Homo sapiens: one gene and its partners. The protein of the gene in region 1 purifies or fractionates together with the protein of each later gene. This does not show direct contact. Each region holds a gene or a part of one and is shown in the gene's direction. Other genes may lie near its edges.

What was found. Proteins that work in one complex are often made in the same cells at the same time.
Region 2: the proteins of ART3 (region 1) and ZNG1C purify together in Homo sapiens (affinity purification with mass spectrometry; 3 studies listed by BioGRID and IntAct, with this or other methods). This does not show direct contact.
Region 3: the proteins of ART3 (region 1) and ATP12A purify together in Homo sapiens (affinity purification with mass spectrometry; 3 studies listed by BioGRID and IntAct, with this or other methods). This does not show direct contact.

The regions. Positions count from the first base shown.
Region 1 is NC_000004.12:76,070,791-76,077,716, forward strand, and holds the start of ART3 (ecto-ADP-ribosyltransferase 3 isoform a precursor), read left to right. Parts: upstream 1-3,918; 5' UTR 3,919-4,029; intron 4,030-5,090; 5' UTR 5,091-5,099; coding exon 5,100-5,168; intron 5,169-6,926.
Region 2 is NC_000009.12:68,265,955-68,272,982, forward strand, and holds part of ZNG1C (zinc-regulated GTPase metalloprotein activator 1C), read left to right. Parts: intron 1-265; coding exon 266-352; intron 353-2,979; coding exon 2,980-3,024; intron 3,025-7,028.
Region 3 is NC_000013.11:24,704,380-24,711,407, forward strand, and holds part of ATP12A (potassium-transporting ATPase alpha chain 2), read left to right. Parts: intron 1-1,933; coding exon 1,934-2,084; intron 2,085-2,643; coding exon 2,644-2,812; intron 2,813-2,899; coding exon 2,900-3,054; intron 3,055-4,984; coding exon 4,985-5,108; intron 5,109-5,303; coding exon 5,304-5,449; intron 5,450-6,080; coding exon 6,081-6,214; intron 6,215-6,412; coding exon 6,413-6,514; intron 6,515-6,938; coding exon 6,939-7,028. UniProt on the Homo sapiens protein: The catalytic subunit of a H(+)/K(+) ATPase and/or Na(+)/K(+) ATPase pump which transports K(+) ions in exchange for Na(+) and/or H(+) ions across the apical membrane of epithelial cells.

The DNA.
Region 1 (6,926 bases):
AATTGAAGCAAGTAGAAAAGAATTTTTATTGCAACCCACTTCTTTCCAGCATCTGCCAATATACTGTGCCTTTCCTCCTGTTCATATTAGATGAACCTCTCCTGCTCTTATCTAAGGCCACCTCATCTGCTTGTATGCTATGTCTCATCCCCTTTTGCCTACTCAAGAAGATTGACCCAATCATTCTACCCTCTCTTTGCTATATTATTAGTTTTTTCCTCTATCTACTAGATCATATCCAACATGCTGGTTTTTTTCTGTCTTTAAAAATATTTCTGACCAAGCACAGTGGCTCATGCCTATAATCTCAGCACTTTGGAAGGCCAAGGCAGGCGGATCATTTGAGGCCAAGAATTCAAGACCAGCCTGGCCAACATGGTGAAACCCCGTCTCTAGTAAAAATACAAAAATTAGCCAGGCTTGGTAGTGGGCAGCTACTCTGGAATCTGAGGCAGGAGAATCGCTTGAACTGGGGAGGCAGAGGCTGCAGTGAGCCGAGATAGGGAGGCGGAGGCTGCAGTGAGCTGAGATCGTGCCACTGCACTCCAGCCTGTGTGACAGAGCGAGACTCCATCTCAAAAAAAAAAAAAAAATTCTTGGACTCTCTTCTTTACCTTTTCCCTGGTCCCACCATCAAGCTATACTGCCTCATTCCTTTTATGTCCTTTATAGAAAAACTCCTTGAAAGAGTTGAAGATATTAACCATCTCCAATGTCTCCAATTCCTCTTTTCATTCTTTCTTAGGCCATTCTAACCAGGCTTTCATCTCCACTCTTCTATCAGACCTGCTCTTAAACAAAACTTTCAATATCCTCCACATTGCTAAATCCAATGGTCAGTTCTCAGTCCTCATCTTACTTGACCTATCAGAAGCTTTTAACACATTTGATCTTTCCTTTCTTTTGTAAGTATTTTCTTCACTTGAGTTCCAGGATACTTTTTCCACACACGGTCTTCTCCATGTCAATCAATGACAACTCCATCCTTCCAGCTATTCAAGCTAAAAATCTTGGAACTATTCTTTACTCCCCTCTTTTTCTTGCAGCCCACATCTAGTTTGTCAGTACATCCTATTGCCTCAATCTTCAAATTATATCCTGCATTTAAGTCTAAACATTTTTTTTTGTTTTTGTTTTTGTTTTTGAGACAGGGTCTTACTCTGTTGACCAGGCTGGGGTGCAGTGGCACCATCATAGCTCACTGTAATCTGCAACTCCTGGGCTCAAGAGATCTTCCTGTCTTAGCCTCCCAAGTAGCTAGGACTACCGACATGTGCCACTGCACCTGGCTAATTTTTAAAATTTTTTTGTAGAGACAAGGTCTCCCTGTGTTGCCCAGGCTAGGACTCCTGGCTTCAAGCCATCCTCCTGCCCTGGCTTCCAAATCTCTGAGATTACAAACACTTTAACTGTATAATAAATTGATATCTTTATAGATCATTTCCATTTACTTTTTTGTGAGTTATTACATTTTTGAAAATACAGTAGACTTTTAGAACCCACAAATGCTTTTCCTTATCGTATCAGGAAATACTGTGTCTAATCTACAAAAGTCGGATTTTTAACAGGCTCAAATAAAAATGGCCTGTTTCTAACAACCAAAGAAACAACAAAGCAACAACATAAACATACACTCAGACATCCACTTCATACCACCTCAGCAACAGCAACAACACACATACACACACATCTACTTCTCATTACGTTTAATGCTGCCTTCCTGATTCAAGCCACCATAATCTCTGCTTGCATTATTATAATAACCTGTCATTTAGTCTTCTTACATTCACCCTACAGACCATTCTCAGCATAACAGCCAGAGTGATCCTCTTAAAAAATAAATCAGATCATGTTATACCTCTTTTTAAAACCTGTGATTTGCTCCTTTTCTCTTAGAGTGAAAGCCAGTGTTCTTACAGTGGCCTGCAGAGATTGACATGGTCTTCCCACCACCCCCTTACATCTCTGACCTTATCTTGTACTACTCTAATGTTCCAACCATATTGGCCTGCTTACTATTCCTCAAACAAAAGTAGGCATATTCTTGTCTCAGGGCTTTAGTACGTGCTGTTCACTGTGTTTGACTGCCACAGTCTTCATGGCTGATCTCTTTCAAGTCTTTGCTCAAATACCACCTTTCAGTGAGTCTTCCCTAACAATCCAATTTAAATTGCAAACACTCCATGCGCTCCTAGTCTCCTTTGTGCTACTTATAAACAAAAGCCAAAACCATAGCACTCACTACATTCTAACATACTTGCATAATTTACGTACTTATTTTAGTTATTTGACTGCCTTCCCTCACAAGAATATAAACTTCACAAAGGCAAGATATTTATCCATTTCGTTCACTGGTATATCTCTAGTACCTAAAACAGTTCCTAGCACATTTTAAGGACTCAAATATTTGTTCAATGAATGAATGAAAGAAATTTGGTTAAAAACTGGAACAAAACAGGAATGGAGGCCAGCGACAGGAGAACTTCTCTACCTCATTTCCTGTAGGCCTACATGCTTGGAACTTAAAAGCAGGTTGTTGTGAGCCTAAGGCCTGAAGACATGCAAACTTTCTTTTTTCTTTCTAACCAAACTCCTGCTTTTTAAAAAATCATATTATTTCTGGGAGTGAGTCTGTGCTGTGTATTTAATCTTGGATTGCCAAGCCAGTGAGGTGGGAAAAGGTTGGAACATATCTCTATTCTAAAGAGTAGAGTTGGATTTTGTAAATATAGGTGTATTTCATGATAATTTAAAATGTTTTCTTGAAGTAATATATGTGTGTACAAAAAAAACACATATCATAAGTATATAGCTCACTGAATTTTCACAAACTGAATTTGTCAATGTAATTGGCATCCATAGCAAAAAGCAGAACCCAGCTAACATCTCAGATGCTCCTCTGTGCCCTTTCCAGTTACTAGCTACTACCCAGGGTGACCACTATTCTGACTTCTCATGCCTTGGAAGTGTTTTGCCTAATTTTGTTCTTGATATAAATTAAATCATACAGTATAAACATGCTTGTATCTCTTTTTTTACTCAAAATTTTGTTTGTGAGATTTATCCACATTGTTATATATGGTCAGAGTTTGTTCGTTTTCATTGCTATATAAAATTTCACTTACAGTCTAACCATTCTACTGTTGATGGATATTTGGTTTCCAGTTTGGGGGTTATTATGAATAGTGCTACTATCAACATTCTATTAATGTATTTTGGTGTATGTATGCGTGAATTTCTTTGGACATTTTTGTGTTTTTTAAATCCACAGTCAGTGAACCCTAAGTGTTCCTCAGCATTGCAGTCAGTATATTTACCATGTATGCGTTACTCAAATGACAGCTGTAGTTGCAGGCATTACCAAATCCTTCCCTCCTTAATGTTATCACTGGACTTTGTCTATACTTGGGATTCTTAACATGTTGTATTTTGGTTAAGTATGCGTATTCATGTTTTTTATTAGATTTTGAGTGCTTTTTAGTACTTTGTTTTACTTGCTTATGTATCCCGACTCCTGACGAGGTACCTGAAATATAGTAAGCTAGTTGAGCGAATGGTGATAGCTGTCACCATTGCCAGTGATTAACAGAGCAAGTTTCCCTAGTTATGTGAATCACTTAGCCTAGAGTAAAATCCATGCTTTAGTTTGATATCTCAGTGTCAAAGGATTAGGAATGGGAAGTCATTTCTCTCTGAGAGAAGCCCAGAACTGTGGGCTCAGAACTGAATGTGCTGTGTGGCTAAAGGGAATTGCTATGGCTTTACAAGCCTCTTGGAGATTTAAAGTGTTAACAGCAGTGATTCCAAGGCATAGTGTGGGGGGGCCAGATATAAATAGCAGAACACAAGTAGCGTAGTGTGCCACTGCCAAGCTACTGCTGGGGGTGTTTATAAAAAGAAAAGCATTCCTGTCTCAGCTCTCACTGTCAACAACATCCCATCCTGAAGACTTGCTTACCACAACTGAGAGTGGGGAGTCAGTTTGAGGCCTAGCATCACTTAAACTTCCTCCAAAGGCACAAAAGCCAGGTAAACCTTTTGACTTATTTACACTCAGACTAAAGAAATGAACAATTTTTAGGAAAATCCTGATCAAAGCTTGCTTAAAACATATTGCCTTGTGACAGATATCTATCATCTTATATTCAAATCTTTTTTGGAAAGAGAAGTTTAACACAAAGTAGCATGTTGGTACTATATTTTAGTATTTTTAGTAAAAACAAAACAAAACTGCTTCTGAAGAAATATGGGAAACTGAGGCCAAAATGATCTATAAAAGGGAAGACTTCTCCCTTCCCCTGTGCTGTTCATTCTCATTTTTAGAATCCAGAATATGGTGATTGGTAGGGTAAAATAGAAGCTTCATTTGAGTTACATTATCATAAATACTGGGATGAATATTAGGCATTCGGCCAATAGTTGTATAATCTTAGAATTGCTGCCTACCCAGTTCCTTCTTATTCTTGTTCCCGCCTTCAGAAAGTTATGTAAGACACTTATTTTACCCTCGGGCTTCTCTTGATTGTATTTGGGGGAAGGGGGCCATCTCTGACAATCCACTGCTTTGTACCACTACTGACCTCATCATCTCCTCTGTCCCACTCAAAAGGGCATGACAATGTGCAAAGAGGATAGAAGAATGGATAATGTGCATGGACATATTCCTGGGGAATTCTTAGAAACTGGGAGCTAGGGGACCAATTTGAGACTGCTGTTTTTTAGTCTGATTGTGTTATTTCCTGTGCACGCTGAGGGGAGATTTAGAGATGGGAAGAAAATATGACTCCCAGTGACTGTGGTGGGAGAGATGACATGTCTGGAGGAGTATGGAAATGCACAGATTTAATCTTGAGCAAATCACTGAAATTCTAAGGTGTTTTTGTTTCCTCGTCTGTAGAATGAGAGCATTAGACCACTAGATAAAGCCTAATGGCTCTTGTAGCCCGTTAGGAATTTATTGATAATCACTTCCTGACCATCATGCTATCCACTCACATTCTAAATGAAAAAATACGCAGTGTCATCCTATTCTACTTCCCTACACCTCTTTTTTGAGTCTACTGAATTGAAATTTCTTTATTTTAATTTAGAAGAGAAAAATGAAGACGGGACATTTTGAAATAGTCACCATGCTGCTGGCAACCATGATTCTAGTGGACATTTTCCAGGTAATGTTGGGAATGGGAAGCATGTGGTCATTGGAATGGAAATTCGTTTTTTTTTTTTTTTGAGACGGAGTCTCTCTCTGTCGCCCAGACTGCTGGAGTGCAGTGGCTCGATTTCGGCTCACTGCAAGCTCCGCCTCCCAGGTTCATGCCATTTTCCTGCCTCAGCCTCCCCAGTAGCTAGGACTACAGGCGCCTGCCACCACGCCTGGCTAATTTTTTGTATTTTTGGTAGAGACGGGTTTTCACCATGTTAGCCAGGATGGTCTCGATCTCCTGACCTCATGATCCGCCCACCTCGACCTCCCAAAGTGCTGGGATTACAGGCGTGAGCCACCGCGCTTGGCCTGGAATGGAAATTCTTGATATAACATTACCTGAGGCATCTGTGTGGCTTGATGGTGGAAATGAAAGTAGGTAGGATAGGTAAATTAATTATAAGTAGCTCTTTTCATTTTAAATATGTGACAGATTAACTGTAAAAAGTTGAAAAAATTAAAATTAAGCAAAAAGAGGAAAGTAAAGATTATTCATAATTCCTCCACTCAGAGGGAATGATTCCCAACCTGTTGGTGTATACAGGCTTCTTGGCTTTTTTCTATGTGTATACTGTTTTTAATTTACAAAAATGGGTTCACACTGTACATAGAATTTTTTCTTTGCATTTTAAGTTAATACTATGCTGCATGTCACGCATGTCATCAGATATTCTGAATATATGTTTTTCTCCAAATAAGATAATGCTGCATTGTTTGATTACATGTTTTTTAATTAATGACCATTTTCCCACATTTTTTTTCTGGCAGAACTTTTATGATTTTATTTGCAATTGACTCTTTAAGCATCCTGTAACATATTTTTATGTAAAATATAATATTTCACTTGATTTTTTTTCCCCACGTTGTTAGCTGCCACATTACTTGTGGGTATTTGTGCACCATTTTAGATGCCTTTTTAAAAATATCTTAAATTCTTAAACTGTTATCCTTTTTTGAATTTAATATTCTAATCCATTTTCTATAGAATCATTGTGTATCCTGTTTCCTGTGTCGCAGTATGTTTTTTATTGAAATATAATTTACATACCATAAAAATTCACCATTTTTAGCTGTATACTTCAGTGGTTTCAGTATATTCATTATGTTCTGCAACCATCACCACTATCTGATTGCAAAACATTTCCGTCAACCCAAAAAGAAACCCTGTACTTATTAGCAGTCAGCCCCAATTTTCTCCATCCCCCATTCCCTGGCAACCACTGTCTACTTTCTGTGTCTATGGTTTTGCCTATTCTGGATATTTCGCCTAAATGGAATCATACAATATGTGACCTTTTGTGTCTGGCTTCTTTCACTTAGCATAATGTTCTCAGGAGTCCTATCAGTACTTCATTCTTTCTTATAGCCGAGTAATATTCTATTTTATGGCCGTACCGCATCTTGTTTATCCATTTATCAGCTGATGGACATTTGGGCTGTTTCCACTTTATGGCTATTACGAATAGTGGTGTTGTGAACATTTATGTACAAGTTTTTATGTGAACATGTGTTTTATTTTTCTTTTTAAAAAATTTTCTAATCATATAGTCTTGACATATTGAGATACTACAAACACTATTTGGTTATTTGGTAGCATTACAGAGTAAAGTTTACTTATATATAGGAAATATATATGTAAGAATGAATTTGGGGGTTATGATTTATGATTCATAGCAAAATTACCTATTGTTGTGAACATGTTTCACTTCTCTTGGGTGTACAC
Region 2 (7,028 bases), on another chromosome or scaffold:
CTTAGTAAATACTTTGCAAATGGGTAATGTGAAATCTGAACTTGCATAGTAATGAATACAATTCATTCACATTGAAAAATTAGCGGATTAGGAGTAAACTGAATCACTCCTATAGAGCACTATATAATCCTTAACTGATATATTGATCTACATGAGGTGTTTTTATTTATTTTTAATTTGTTAACATTTCTCTTTTGATGTATTAATCTGCATGCGTGTATATTATTTAAAATTTCTTAACATTTCTTTTTGTTTGCTATTTTAGGCAAGTTGCTTTGGCAGATATCATTCTCATTAATAAAACAGACTTGGTTCCAGAAGAAGATGTAAAGAAATTAAGAACGACAATTAGGTACAAAATGATAAGTGTGTTAAGTGCCTACAGATCCATATTGTATACACAGAATATTTTTTACTCTGATTGTTGCCCTGTAGAAACTTAAGGTATAAGGTTGACCTGCTTCAAGAACGTTAGGGAATCACATATATTGTTGATGGCTAATTGTTATATAAATGGTAATACATAAAATTAGTCCCCAGTGCTTGCAGAATATAGTTCACAGTTAATAGACTGATATTCAGGGTCTTCGCACTCCATCTTTCTTTTCCTGTCTTCTCTTTGACTCTTTCCTAATGTCAGTCTTCCCTAACTTTACCCAGGATGGTTAATTCACTTTCCCATGGATGCATCCTGTCAGTTCCTGTCTTTACTCATAATGTATTCTCACTCTGCCAATCCCTGAGTTCTTTCTTGTTCTGTTTTTTTTTTTTTAATTTATTCTATAGAGCCTATTCTGTCTCTCCCCGCTTCCTATGTGAAGTCTTCCCTGACTCAAGTGGTCTCAGTTTTCCCTGAACTCTTGTTGACTTCATCTTCCTTAACTGTCAACCATGCATTGTCTTCCAGCTTGCTTGTATATCTTCTTTGTCCATAGCCAAGGCTGATCAGCATAGGACAATCAGGACAATATGAATGATGCTCAAATATGTGCTAACAGTCATTTTGCTGACTGTTCTGGAGACTCCCATTCCTTTTGAAAACAAAGATGGACTTTTCAAATGAAGTTATAGTTCAGGGACTTTGTTTTGAATTATTTTGTAAGACCTGAACTAATAAAAGCCCTATACAGAGAGACATTCGGTAGCTATTATTATTGGTTATCTTTAATGTGTACAATGCTTTGAGCGTGATGGCTCAAAATTACTATTCTTAGTATTTATAAGTTCTACTGACTAGATTTTCAATCTGTCATCTCAGTTCATATAGTATATATTATAAATTGAATCAATAAAGGTAAGGCTCATTAGGAGATTATTTGCCATGATTAATGATTGTGGAAGAAAGAAATTCATATTTTTTCCACATATTTCATCTTATTTTAATAGTAATGTCCTTAAACTTTACTATAAAAAAATATAATGTCTCCATGTGGAGGGTAGGTATTGTTGCCTAGTGTTGAAGATCACAGACCTTGGAATCTGCTTGGGTTCTAATCCTTGGTCTGTTTCTCATTGTCTTCTTAGGGAGCTTATTTACCCTTTTAAAGCCTCCTCTGTAAAAGGCATAATGCCTATCATAAGTTTGCTTTGAGTATTACATGAGACAATGTTGGTAAACTTTGCACAGTGCTGACACATAGTAAGTGCTCTGTTAGCTATTATTATGTAATTTTTTTCTTAGCTTACATAGTAAGTTCAAGGTATAGTAAAAAAGGGAAGAAAGAAAAAGATGGCTGATTTTGAAAAGGAGAAAGTGATGAATGAAGATTGCTTTTACATTTTTTGACACTGGTCTTCTAATCTTGTTTCTCTTCATAAATCTTGTGCACCATTGTGATTGCTAAGAAGAACACAATCTATTTAGCAAACGTTTTTGGCATAAAAGGAATGATAATTATTACTTGACTTTTATATCCTTATAGAGACCTAAGCTAAATCTCTGACACTGACAATATTGACTATTAGCCAGCTTGTTAACAGTACTAGAAATGAATTTGGTAGAAGCAATTTGGTAAATTACACACCCTTTTGGCTTTTACCCTCCGTTTATATCAGACTTGTGACTGACTCAGAATGATATTTGGGGAGGTGAAAAAAGGTAAACATGTTTGAGAGGAATTAGCCATCAGACTAGAGTGTATTCAAAAAAGAAGATTTAAGAATTTTGTAAAATAGTGGAGAGACTTGCCTCAGAATCATTATATGTGGGAAGCCTTACCCATGAGAACAAACTTGAACAAGTAGCAAGAATCTTGGGTAAGTAACCCTAAAGACAATTGAATTCATGATAGAGAATTGATGATTGATGATAGGCAATGGAAAAGATAAATAGATGAGGTGTACAGTGTGTTGAAAAGAATTTAACAGGTACTTTTTGGTTCCATACAAAGCCATATTCTATAGTATCAAAAGAGGGAGAACAGGCATAACGGGTAGAGAGCCTAATTAGGGAACTGACGAGGTTATTCTATAAAGGAACCTGGGATGTGTGACTTAGAATTACTGTGAATACTAAGGACAGGCTGGGGGCAAAGCAACTTACAACTAGGTTTTTATTTTTAGTGTGTATATAGCCATTTCTACCATGTATGCCTGAGGAAAAAAGTGACCACCGTAAAAATTTTGAGTATCTACTCATTTTTAAGAACACTGGGATAACTGACTATTTATGAATGATTTTTTCTAAAGTGAAGCGTCTTTTTATTAACCACAAAGTAGCCCTTAATCTGACAGTTGTGTGAATTTTTGCATATATGTTTTATTGATGTATGAGTGGAATATATGTGATTTATTGTTTGAAGGAAAATCATAATTATTTTTTAAAGCAAGTTTTGTTTTTCTGTTTTTAATTTTTTTCTGGTTCCAGATGTATTTGGGTATGCTTATTTCCCGTTTTAGAAACAATATACTTTGTATACTTTTTTAAAAAGTTAATTTTTACTTTTAAACTTTGTCTTCCTCATTTATTATTTATTTCAGATCCATAAATGGACTAGGACAAATCTTAGAAACACAAAGATCAAGGTACTTTAAAAAAGCTATTCCTATTAATAACAAATCATTTTAGTTATTAATAATAAACATTAAGTAATTGACAAATATGCTTGATTCTGATATAAGAAAGATCTAAGTGCATTTAAAAAGATTTGGATCCAAAATGTTGTTTGGAATGCTCTTAATAAGTTAGTTTGGCATATTTGACTAGTACATTTGCCTGTCTTCAAAACTAAGATTACAAAGCCATGATAACACTGTGTAAGTGTTTGCTTAATGAGGAAGAAAAGACTTCCAAACACTCGAGAGGGTAACTCAGTACAGAAATCTGAAGTATATTGAGGAATCTTAATTTGAAGTGTTTAAATGGCTTTTTAATATTTAAAAAGCCTTCTTAGTGTTTTATAGTTGCCAAAAAATACATGGAGTCTTTACCTTGAAGTTCCTGACAAATTCTTTTATTAAATTTTGACTTTCATTTTCTCTAGGTTCTGTTCCTAAAACATCTGTGAAGTGTATTTCTGTAGATTAAATTCTGTTTTCCATTGAATGTTATCTTAATTTCAGAAAATTTCTGTGCAGGGTTATTTTATTAAGCTCATTTTTTTTTTTTTTTTTTTTTTTTTTTTTTTTTTTTTTTTGGTGAGAAAGGCTCAGCAGCTGATAGACTCAGCAACAGGCAGCCAGGAGCTCTGAGGCTCACAGCTGGCAGTCTAGTTCCACTCAGTCTCTACTTGAGAAATTCTTTCTTTGGAAGTACAGCAGAGGCCTTAGGTGAGTGGCTTGTCTGCTATGGCAGAGATTAGAGGTGCTGACAGACTGCCATAAGTATTAGGCAGTAACAGCAGCAGCTGCTTATATGCATGTGAACAGCTGGGGAATTAATTTGGTATGCATTCTCAGGAGCCACTCATCTGCTGGCAGAGGTAGCAGAAGAATGCCCTTAGTGTAAGTCCTCTACAACCATACACCAAATGTGCTCCCTGCGTTTCAAATTCCATTGTAGAGAGTCTCTGATAATCTCACTTATACCATGAGCCATTCCTCAGTATCTGTCCTCTTCCTGTTAGTGTTCTACAATTCCTTTCTCCTTAATTTTTCTCCGCTTTACAAAATGTCACACAGACAAGTGCATGATACTTAAACAAGCTTTTAAAAATAATGCTCATAAATAGCTTTGGTTCTGTCATAATATTCGTATTTATAAACATTTTAAGTCAATTCTCTTCTTTTATTTTCATTTCAGAAATATCCATGTCCTGAATAAAAGTTGTGTCTTGATTAGTTTATTATGTAACAATTTAGTGTGTTTGACATTTCTAACTTTTATTTCTAACATTTGCTTTATTATAGAACAATAAACATGCAGTGATTGATTTTTCTTACTTCAAGTGGATGAGTGAGCAAGTGACTAAAATCTTCTGTGAATTCTTCAGTGTATGGTGCTTGCCAATGCATCTGAGAATCTAGGGACTTTCTGAAATAGTACTTCCTTGCTATGAGGACTGAAGTTGGATTAGAATCCTTTTCAATGAAGATCAGATGTCCTGAGTAGAATTCTTACTATTGGGTCCTGAATCTTATATTAAATATTCTCTCAAATTCCTTGAGGCATAGCAACTTGAGCTTACCAGTTTAGAAACTGGAGATTTGGGCTGGGCACGGTGGCTCACGCCTGTAATCCCAGCACTTTGGGAGGCCAAGGTGGGCGGATCACGAGGTCAGGAGATGGAGACCATCCTGGCTAACACTGTGAAACCCCATCTCTACTAAAAATACAAAAAATTAGCTGAGGCTGGTGGTGGGCGCCTGTAGTCCCAGCTACTCAGGAGACTGAGGCAGGAGAATGGCGTGAACCCGGGAGGCGGAGCTTGCAGTGAGCTGAGATCGCACCACTGCACTCCAGCCTGGGTGACAGAGCGAGACTCTGTCTCAAAAAAAAAAAAACAAACAAACAAAAAACCCGGAGATATGGTTAACAAAATAGTCAAAGTCACTCTTATAGAAGTTTTGTTTTATTTTTTGTTTTTTAAAATTTTTTTACCATTTTGTAGCTGACAAGTACTGACAATAAACTGCTATAAGCATGTGTAGAAAAAGGCTCACCTTGAGTAGTTAAGAGTAAGGAAAAGGAATAGTGTGTAGCATCGTCTTAGTGGTAAGACTTAAGTTGATTTAGTAGCAAATGGAAGTACTAGTGAACCACATAGATTTCAGAAGTAGGAGTAACAGGTTAGAAGATGTGTCATTTTAATCTTCTCTAGACTTTTTCTTAATTTTTAGAAATGTAAGTGGACTGAACAGAGGAAAACCAAAACACAGCTGGTCAATAATAAGTTAAATTAATTTGACAAACTGCCTGCTATGCATTTCATAGCATTTTAAGGACTATATAAGCAATGGATAAGGCAAAAACTCTGCCTTTAAGGAGATCAGTCATTGGGGGGAAACAGAAGCAAACAAACAAAAAGGCAACATAATAGATATTAATATTAATACAAGAATTTTAAAAGCACAGAGTTCTATAATAATAGGAAAATAGAGGGAATGATTGCTCAACTTTTCTTGAAAAAGAGTCAGGAAAATATTGACCGAGAAGGCAGTCATTGACCTGAGTCTTAAAGAATGAATAAGGTTTTTACAGATGGAGTAGGGTAGGGATAACTTTCCAGGTATAAGGAAGATTTTGTATTCCAGGGACCTTTGAATATTTTAGAATGGCTAGAAAACTTGGTATTATGTAGCACAGAAAAAGTGGTATGACTGAAGAGATAGAGAACTTACCACAAAGGGTCTTGAATGCCATGATACATAGTTTGGATTTTCTTCTGTAGGGAGCAAGGAGTTAGTGAAGGATTTTAAAAGCAACATGACTCTTGGGAGGTAGATTCAATGTGAGACTAATCTCCGAGGTATAGGAAATACAGGAAGGAGGAGCAACAGGTCGGGTAGTGGTGGAAGCAGGTTTGGAAAATGTGATTGGTTTTGTAAACGTTTTTGAGTTTGAAGTGCCACTGGGGAAGGCTTTTGGAAATTTATTTCCAGAGTTCAAGACTGAGCTATCATTGCAGTTTGCTCAGCTATTTACTGAGCTATCTACTGTCAATTTGGATAGTATCTACAGTTTGCATTGTAGATACTGGATACTTGGATTGGCTGGTGCACCCTGTTTATGAGACTCACTGGAGTTTGAAGAGCTGACCACTGGAAAATATCCCTAAGCAGTAGCTGCAATTCCACCCCCACCGAGGAGAGCCAAAACCCTCTTCGTTTTCACTCTCCTGTCCTTGGTCTTAAGCTACTTAAAGCAGCCTTTAGACATAGGGAAAAATTGAAAGCCTCTCTTTTAAGAAAAACATTAGGTACTTCTGGAATAGAGAGTTCAAGAAATTAGGAGAAAAATGAACTTTTGAAGCTTTTTCTTTCCCTTTTTTGTTTACTTCATTCTCTTACTCAGTTTTAAAATGCTGGTAATGGTCTTTTTTTTCTTTTTTTTTTTTTTCTTGGCGATTTTAATGCTTTGGAAAAGATCTCATGGTTTTATCTCCAAAGGAGGAAATTAATTTGATGCCATGGAAATTAGTTTTCTAGTCGTATGCCTTGAATGAGTGAAGAATTTCTTTTTCATGGTGGTACTAAATTTGGGGAAAGCTATAGAAACTTTCATCTGGAAGCTTACACTTTTCCTCTTTTTTGAAAATTTGGTGAGAGACTTGGATATTTTATTATTTTCTGTAAAAGAGTGTAATTTGTTATACAGGTCTAATATTGATCCTTTTTTGGAAGTATGGAAAGAATCTGAGTATAAAGCAGAATTACCTCTGGATGGCATGTATTCTCAAGGACACTGTCACAGTGAAACAGTTTATTTAGAAGCTTGTGTTTCCAAACTGTTGAATTTGATATTCACAAAATTGGCATGTGTAAACTTTATTAAACTTTAAGCTATTTCCTAAGATGAAGATGACAAACTTGGAGGGAAACTTCATTCATTTGGTTTATTTTTATTTTTATTTTTATTTATTTTTATCTTT
Region 3 (7,028 bases), on another chromosome or scaffold:
CTTCCTTCCCTACTTAGGAAGATTTGTTTGGCCTTCCATTCAAGGATCTTTTGTGGTCTTTGTCTAGTTTTAGCCTGGTGATGGCCATGTGCTGGTGACGTGCACACGACGGTCCTGCCCTTAGCCTCCTCCTGTGCTCCTGTTCAGTATAGGTGGCACATTTCTTCCTATAAACCTGGACTGCTTTGCCAATTTGCTGGCCCGTATAGTGTCTTTGTGCAACCTCAACTTCCTCATCCTTTCAGATGGGCATGGATGGAACTGTGCTTGTAGCAGACTCCAGAATGTGCTTCTGTCTCAGCTCTTTGGAACGAGAGAAAGACATAATCTTCCTACGAATGTGGGAAGGTGCATTGAAATGACTTTTATGATTCTTGCCTCAGTCAAAAGTCACAAAGGGACTGCACTTCCTCTTGGTCACTGCCACTCTGCTCATGGCCACAAAAGGGAAGAGTGGATTACACATTTGTATACAAATCACCACACTGAGTGAAGTGGATGCTTTTGTGAATGTTTTCAGTTATTCACTTCATCAGCTCTAGTTTCATGACCATATAAAAATTGCATCTTAGCAGGTGTAAGGGGAAAGGAAACACCCCTTCTTTCTTCTCTTACTTTCTTTTGTTTTGTTTTGTTTTGTTTTTTTGCCAGCGGTTAAGGAGACCTGTAGTTTGAGTCAAGTGCTAGAATTCCAGTATTTAGCACCAAGAGGTAAAACAGACCTAGAAAGCTCAAAACTTGCAAATTGTAAAGAAAAAGACCTGCAGCAGTTTGTACCTACATTGTTTAAGCTGAGATTTGAAGGCTGAAATGTAGTGTTAGCCACGAGAAGCTGAGGTGAGAGATGCCCATTCCTGGTCAGGGAGCGAGACCCGTGAAGGCCTTAGGGTACAGGGGATGGAGGATGTCAGAACTGAGAGCATCCAGCGGGCAGGAGGGAGAGCCCAAGGTGAGGCGAAGCTTGACAACGCAGGCCCCACCTGGGCTCGCTGGCTAAAGTTAGGGATTCCGGGGTCTGCTCCAAGCACGGTGGAAAGCCCCTGAAGAGTTTTAGCAGGGGACTGGCTCAGGCAGCTCTGCATAATCAATAGGCCCTAGAACCTTACTTTTATAGTCAGCAGGCAATAGCGCTGCTCAAAGACTTCAGTAAACTTCTGCCTACGTAGCACATTGCACAAAGATGACACTCTGTAAATCTGAAATACCCAACGGCAAGTAATTATTACCCCTTGTTTGGCCATAAAAGAATTCTAGGACCCAAAACATATGAACAGGCAGTTTGGGGGTTTTATTTTTATTTTTGTTTTTGAGACAGGGTCTCACTTTGTCACCCAGGCTTGAGTGTAGTGGCATGATCATGGCTCACTGCAGCCTCAACCCCCCAGGCTCAAGCAATCCTCCTGCCTCAGCCTGCTGAGTAGCTGGGACCACAGGCACATGCCACCATACCTGGCTAATTTTTTAAAATTTTTTGTAGAGACAGGGGCTCTCACTATGTTGCCCAGGCTGGTCTTGAACTCTTGGCCTCAAGTGATCCTCCTACTCAGCCTCCCACAGTGCTGGGATTACAGGCATGAGCCACTGCGTTTGGCCATGAATGGGCAGTTTTTTAACTTCCTTTTACTTCTGAAGTAAAGCGTTGCTCTAGGAAGTACCACTCTCACCTGTTCTAGTAGGGATAAGGCTACCTGGTTTTTTATTCCTATTGTTATATGGTACCAAGAAATGGTGTTATATTTTAGCCTCAGTTTGCCCTCTTGAAATGGAGACTAAAGTGTTCCCAGGACTCCTGTTACCTCACTAGAGCATTAGGTATCAAGGACACTGGGTTCCAGGTCAAGTCAGAGAGGCTTCAGCCAGCATCCTGCCTGGAACAGTGTTTCAACCTAAGATCTGCCCTTGGGCCTCACCCAGTTTCTTCTGGCCCTTCTAGGGATGCCAAGGCCGCTGTGGTGACTGGCATGGAGCTGAAGGACATGAGCTCAGAACAGCTGGATGAGATCTTAGCCAACTACCAGGAGATTGTCTTTGCCCGGACATCCCCCCAGCAGAAGCTGATCATTGTGGAGGGCTGTCAGAGGCAGGTGGGTGGACAGCAGTGTCCAGAGGACTGACAGGCCCATCACTGTCCATGGGCAAGTGCAGAGGTCTGGATCTCACATCAGGCTGTGGTGCCTTTGAAACTTCAAGAGAGAGTTCTTGGCTCATCCCCATCACCTGACCTCTCCAACCTCTCAGGTGGGCTGGCCCCTGTCCTCCTTTGAGACCCCCACCACATGTTCCCCGAAAGGCTCACCCCAGCTCTCTGCATTTTGTCATGAGAGCCCGGTGAAGCATTTGCCACTGTGGTAGTTGTGAGTAAAGAGAGATTTAAAATGCAAAGATTTAAAACAAAAAATGTGAAGACATAAGATACAAGACACCTGCGCATTAGGTTTTCCTCATTTGCACGTATCTTGTTTGGAGACCCTTGTTCCTGCTTCTAAGATTTCTCATCTTTATCTTTTCCCCTAAATGGGCCTTTCCGTTCAGCTATAATCATCCTCGCAACCTCAAGAGAAAGGGAAGTCTTGTTGCTCTTGCCAGGCCTGCAACCCACTGGGCCTGCTCACTCCCACTTTCTCCCTGGGTCCCCCGCCATAGGATGCTGTTGTTGCTGTGACCGGGGATGGAGTTAATGACTCTCCGGCTCTAAAGAAGGCAGACATTGGGATTGCCATGGGGATAGCAGGTTCTGATGCAGCCAAAAATGCAGCCGACATGGTCTTGCTGGACGACAACTTCGCATCCATCGTCACAGGGGTGGAGGAAGGTGAGTGAGTCTCAGGGGGTCTTCCCAAGGGCCAGGGTGGTCTGGGGGACTAGAAGTAAGTTCTGAAGGAGAAACCTCTCTGCCTAGGTCGCCTGATCTTTGACAACCTCAAGAAGACTATTGCTTATTCCCTGACCAAGAACATTGCCGAGCTGTGCCCCTTTCTGATCTACATCATTGTCGGGCTCCCCCTGCCCATTGGCACCATCACCATTCTGTTCATTGACTTGGGGACAGACATTGTAAGTGACACTGAAGGGAACAGGCTGTGATGCCTGCCCCAGGGGAGGTCAAGTTCAGGGTCGCTACCTTCAAGGGCCGGGGATGGACTAACTCAAGGCTTCTCAGCTTCCATGTGATGGGGCCTGTAGCTCTGCATTTCTCACAGGTTCTCAGGTGGTGCCCATTCTACCAGTCCACATGCCACACCTCAAAGCAAGGGACCAGAGGCATCTGCCAAATGTTTGGAAATTAAAAACACTCTATAGTGAGCTTTTTTTTCTTGAGACAGAGTTTCACTCCCATCACCTAGGCTAGAGTGCAGTGGTGCTATCTTGCCTCACTGCAACCTCCGCCTCCCAGGCTCAAGTGATTCTTCCACCTCAGCCTCCCAAGTAGTTGGGACTACAGGCTTGTGCCACCACACCTGGCTAATTTTTGTATTTTTAGTAGAGATGGGGTTTCCTGGCCTCAAGTGATCCACCTGCCTCGGCCTCCCAAAGTGCTGGGATTACAGGCATGAGTCACTGCACCTGAGCTATAGCAAGCTTTTCAAGACATGAGTCTTCATCCTCAAAAAAAAAAAAGAAATGCCATTGGTCAGTTTCAGCCTATGGGCTTCCCTTTTCTTTTGGGAAGATGAAGCTGTCACTCAGATTAATCACCCAAATAACCACTGGGGGCCCAGTGACTAAAGTGATAATCTCACAGCCACCTCTTGTTAAGTAAGAGAGTCTGACATGGAAGACCTTTACCTAAACACAGTAAGAAGTAGCAGTTATGAAGACTTTATAAAGCCTTGCCCTACAGTAATGTCACCTAAACCTTCCCCTTTTCCAGTATCCATTTAAAGAAAGCCCCGTCTAAGCTGCCCATGTGGCTGTGGCTTACGTGGGCAAGCAGGGAAAGCAACAGACAGCAAGCTGAATTCTTAGCAGGAAACTGGCCCTTCGAAGTGCCCCCTTCCCCTTCAAATTGCCCCCTTCCCCTCTCTTGTTTTCTACAACACCCAGGTAATCCCTAATTCCTAGAGAGACTGGAGATGTCTTTCCCTTTGAGGGGTATTGAGGTCCCCAAAGTTGATGGATCATTTTCCAAGCCCTTCACATTTGCCTGCTTTGCTCTGCTGCAGTGCTTCTCCAGGCCTGGTGCGGGCATCACCTGGGAACTTGTTAGACATGCACACTCTGGGCACTGGTGGACACCTGTAGCCTAGCTACTCAGGAGGCCAATGCAGGAGGATTACTTCAGCTCAGGAGTTTGAGTCCAGCCTGGTCAACACAGAGAGACCTAGTCTCTTAAAAAATAAAAATTAAGAACAAATAAAATAAAAATCTTATTCCAGATAACTGGGCTAGGAATGGAAATAGGTTGTACACCCATTGTCTTTTAAAAAAGAGAAAGAAAGAAAGAGAAAGAGAGAAAGAAAGAGAGAAAGAGAGAGAGGGAAAGAGAGAAAGAGAAAGAGAGAGAAAGAGAAAGAAAGAAAGGAAAGAAAGAAAGAAAGAAAGAAAGAAAGAAAGAAAGAAAGAAAGAAAGAAAGAAAGAAAGAAGGAAAGAGAAAGAGAAATGAATGCAAATTCTCTGGCCCCAGCCCAGTCCTCCTGAATTGGGAAGTCTGGAGGTGGGGCGCAATGATCTGTCTCTTAGCAGGTCCTCCCACCTGGAGGGAGAGGACGGCACAAGAAATTCTCCCTGTAGGGGAAGAGTGTTTTATAACCAGCATCCTTCAGAACTGCCAGCACAGGGTGATAAAAAGCAGCTGATTTCTAAAGGCACTATTCTTAAATTTCCATACAGACAACACGCCCTCTACTGCCTATAGCCTGGATGGGCCAGCTCCATGCCCCCCACCCCATCCAGCCAGTGCCCCACCCACCCCAGCCCCCCTCCCCTACTGTGGGTAGAGCAGAACATCCTGGGGTTAGACCTCACCAGCCTCTTCCCCTCTAGATCCCCTCCATTGCCTTGGCGTACGAGAAAGCTGAAAGTGACATCATGAACAGGAAGCCTCGCCACAAGAATAAGGACAGGCTGGTGAACCAGCCGCTCGCTGTGTACTCATACCTGCACATTGGTACGATGAGGGCGCGTCTTCCCCATCACACGAGGGCCTGCCCCGAGAATTCACTGGAGTGGGGGGCACAGCCAGAAAGTGTGGTTTTCCTGTGGGGCCTGGGTTGGGGAGGGAGGGGGAACCGAGAGTAGACAGGATGAGGCAGTTTCCTGAGGCCATCATAGAACCTGTGTCCTATCTCTCTTGTTCTTTCAGGCCTCATGCAAGCCCTGGGAGCTTTCCTTGTGTATTTCACCGTCTATGCACAAGAGGGCTTTCTGCCCCGCACTCTCATTAACCTGCGGGTAGAATGGGAGAAGGACTACGTGAATGACTTGAAAGACAGCTATGGGCAGGAATGGGTGAGTGGCGGGAGCCCTGCTGCAGAGTCCACCTGATTCTCTCCATGCTCATTGCCCTGCGCAGAATTACATAGAACCTCCATGTCCCTGAACAGCCTGGGAAAGCTTCAATTAATAGGGCTCAGGGCCCCCTTGCTGACACGTGTTTGGCCTTTGCCAGGTCTCATGGCACAGCCTCCTGTCTTGGGCTAGATGACAAGAGGTCCCTTTTTTTACCTTAGCTTTGCCATTGGTATAGAAGAGTGACCAGCCCAGCCACACCCACAGTGCGGCCAAATAAATTTACATCTTTCAGGCCGGGTGCAGTGGCTAATGCCTATAATCCCAGCACTTTGGGAGGCTGAGGAGGGAGAATCACTTGAGCCCAGGAGTTTGAGACCAGCCTGGCCAACACAGTGAGACCCTGCCTGTGTTAGAAATAATAGTAATGATAATTTTTTAAAAAATTAACATTTTTCTCTACTCAGCTGGTTCAAGAAAGAAAAATGTTTCTTTCCAAACACTAGAAGGTGGTCCATTCTCAGTCCGGGTGAGGTGTGGAAAGAACATGAAGCTTTAGAGAACTGCATTGGAATTTCCTAGAAGTTTTCCTTTAGGCCTCAAGGTCTCTTCCTTCTCTGCCCATTAACAGACAAGGTACCAGAGGGAATACCTAGAATGGACGGGCTACACGGCTTTCTTTGTTGGCATCCTAGTCCAGCAAATAGCAGATCTGATCATCAGGAAAACCCGGAGGAATTCCATCTTCCAGCAGGGTCTCTTCAGGTACTGCCTGTGCCCGGCCTCCTGGGGCAGCCCTGGGCCTGCCGTGCAAGGATGATGATGATTTGTTTTTCACAAGACAGAGTTCTGGCCACACTTGTAACCCCAGAGGCATTGATTTTTCTGGTGGCATGGTCTGCTGGGTGTATGATCATGAAGCCACAAGAATCCCAAGTCTGTCTGCTTTTGTGTGTCTTGCAGAAATAAAGTCATCTGGGTGGGGATCACCTCACAGATCATCATTGGTCTGATCCTCTCCTATGGCCTCGGAAGTGTCACAGCCTTGAGTTTCACCATGCTTAGGTGAGTTCACCCTCAACAGCATGGAGGAAAGAGCCAGCCTCTGCTTTGAGCTGTCGCAGCCTAAATAAACCTGAGGATTCCCAGGGTTCTTCCCCAAGTCTTTCAAAAGACGTCAAACTGATCCCATGCTCTGTGAGCCCAAAGCTTTGATCTGCATTTTCCAGAAGTGGAAATGGGTTTTCTAGACCTCACCAACCGGCCTTCATCCTCATCCAACAGGTTGCTTCAAAGGCAGACATTGCTTCTAGCAGTCACAGTGCAGGTTAAACAAGGAGCTTTCCACCTTTATTTTGTGGGACCTCGTGGATTTGTCGTTCTTTGCAGTAAAGCAAGACAAATGAACGAGAAGCCCCATTCCCATTGGGCAGGGTTGGGCTATCCCTGTGGATGAGTCAGGGTTCACTTTCCATCCCTTTGCTTCCAGGGCTCAGTACTGGTTTGTGGCTGTGCCGCACGCCATCCTGATCTGGGTGTATGATGAGGTGCGGAAGCTCTTCATCAGGCTCTACCCTGG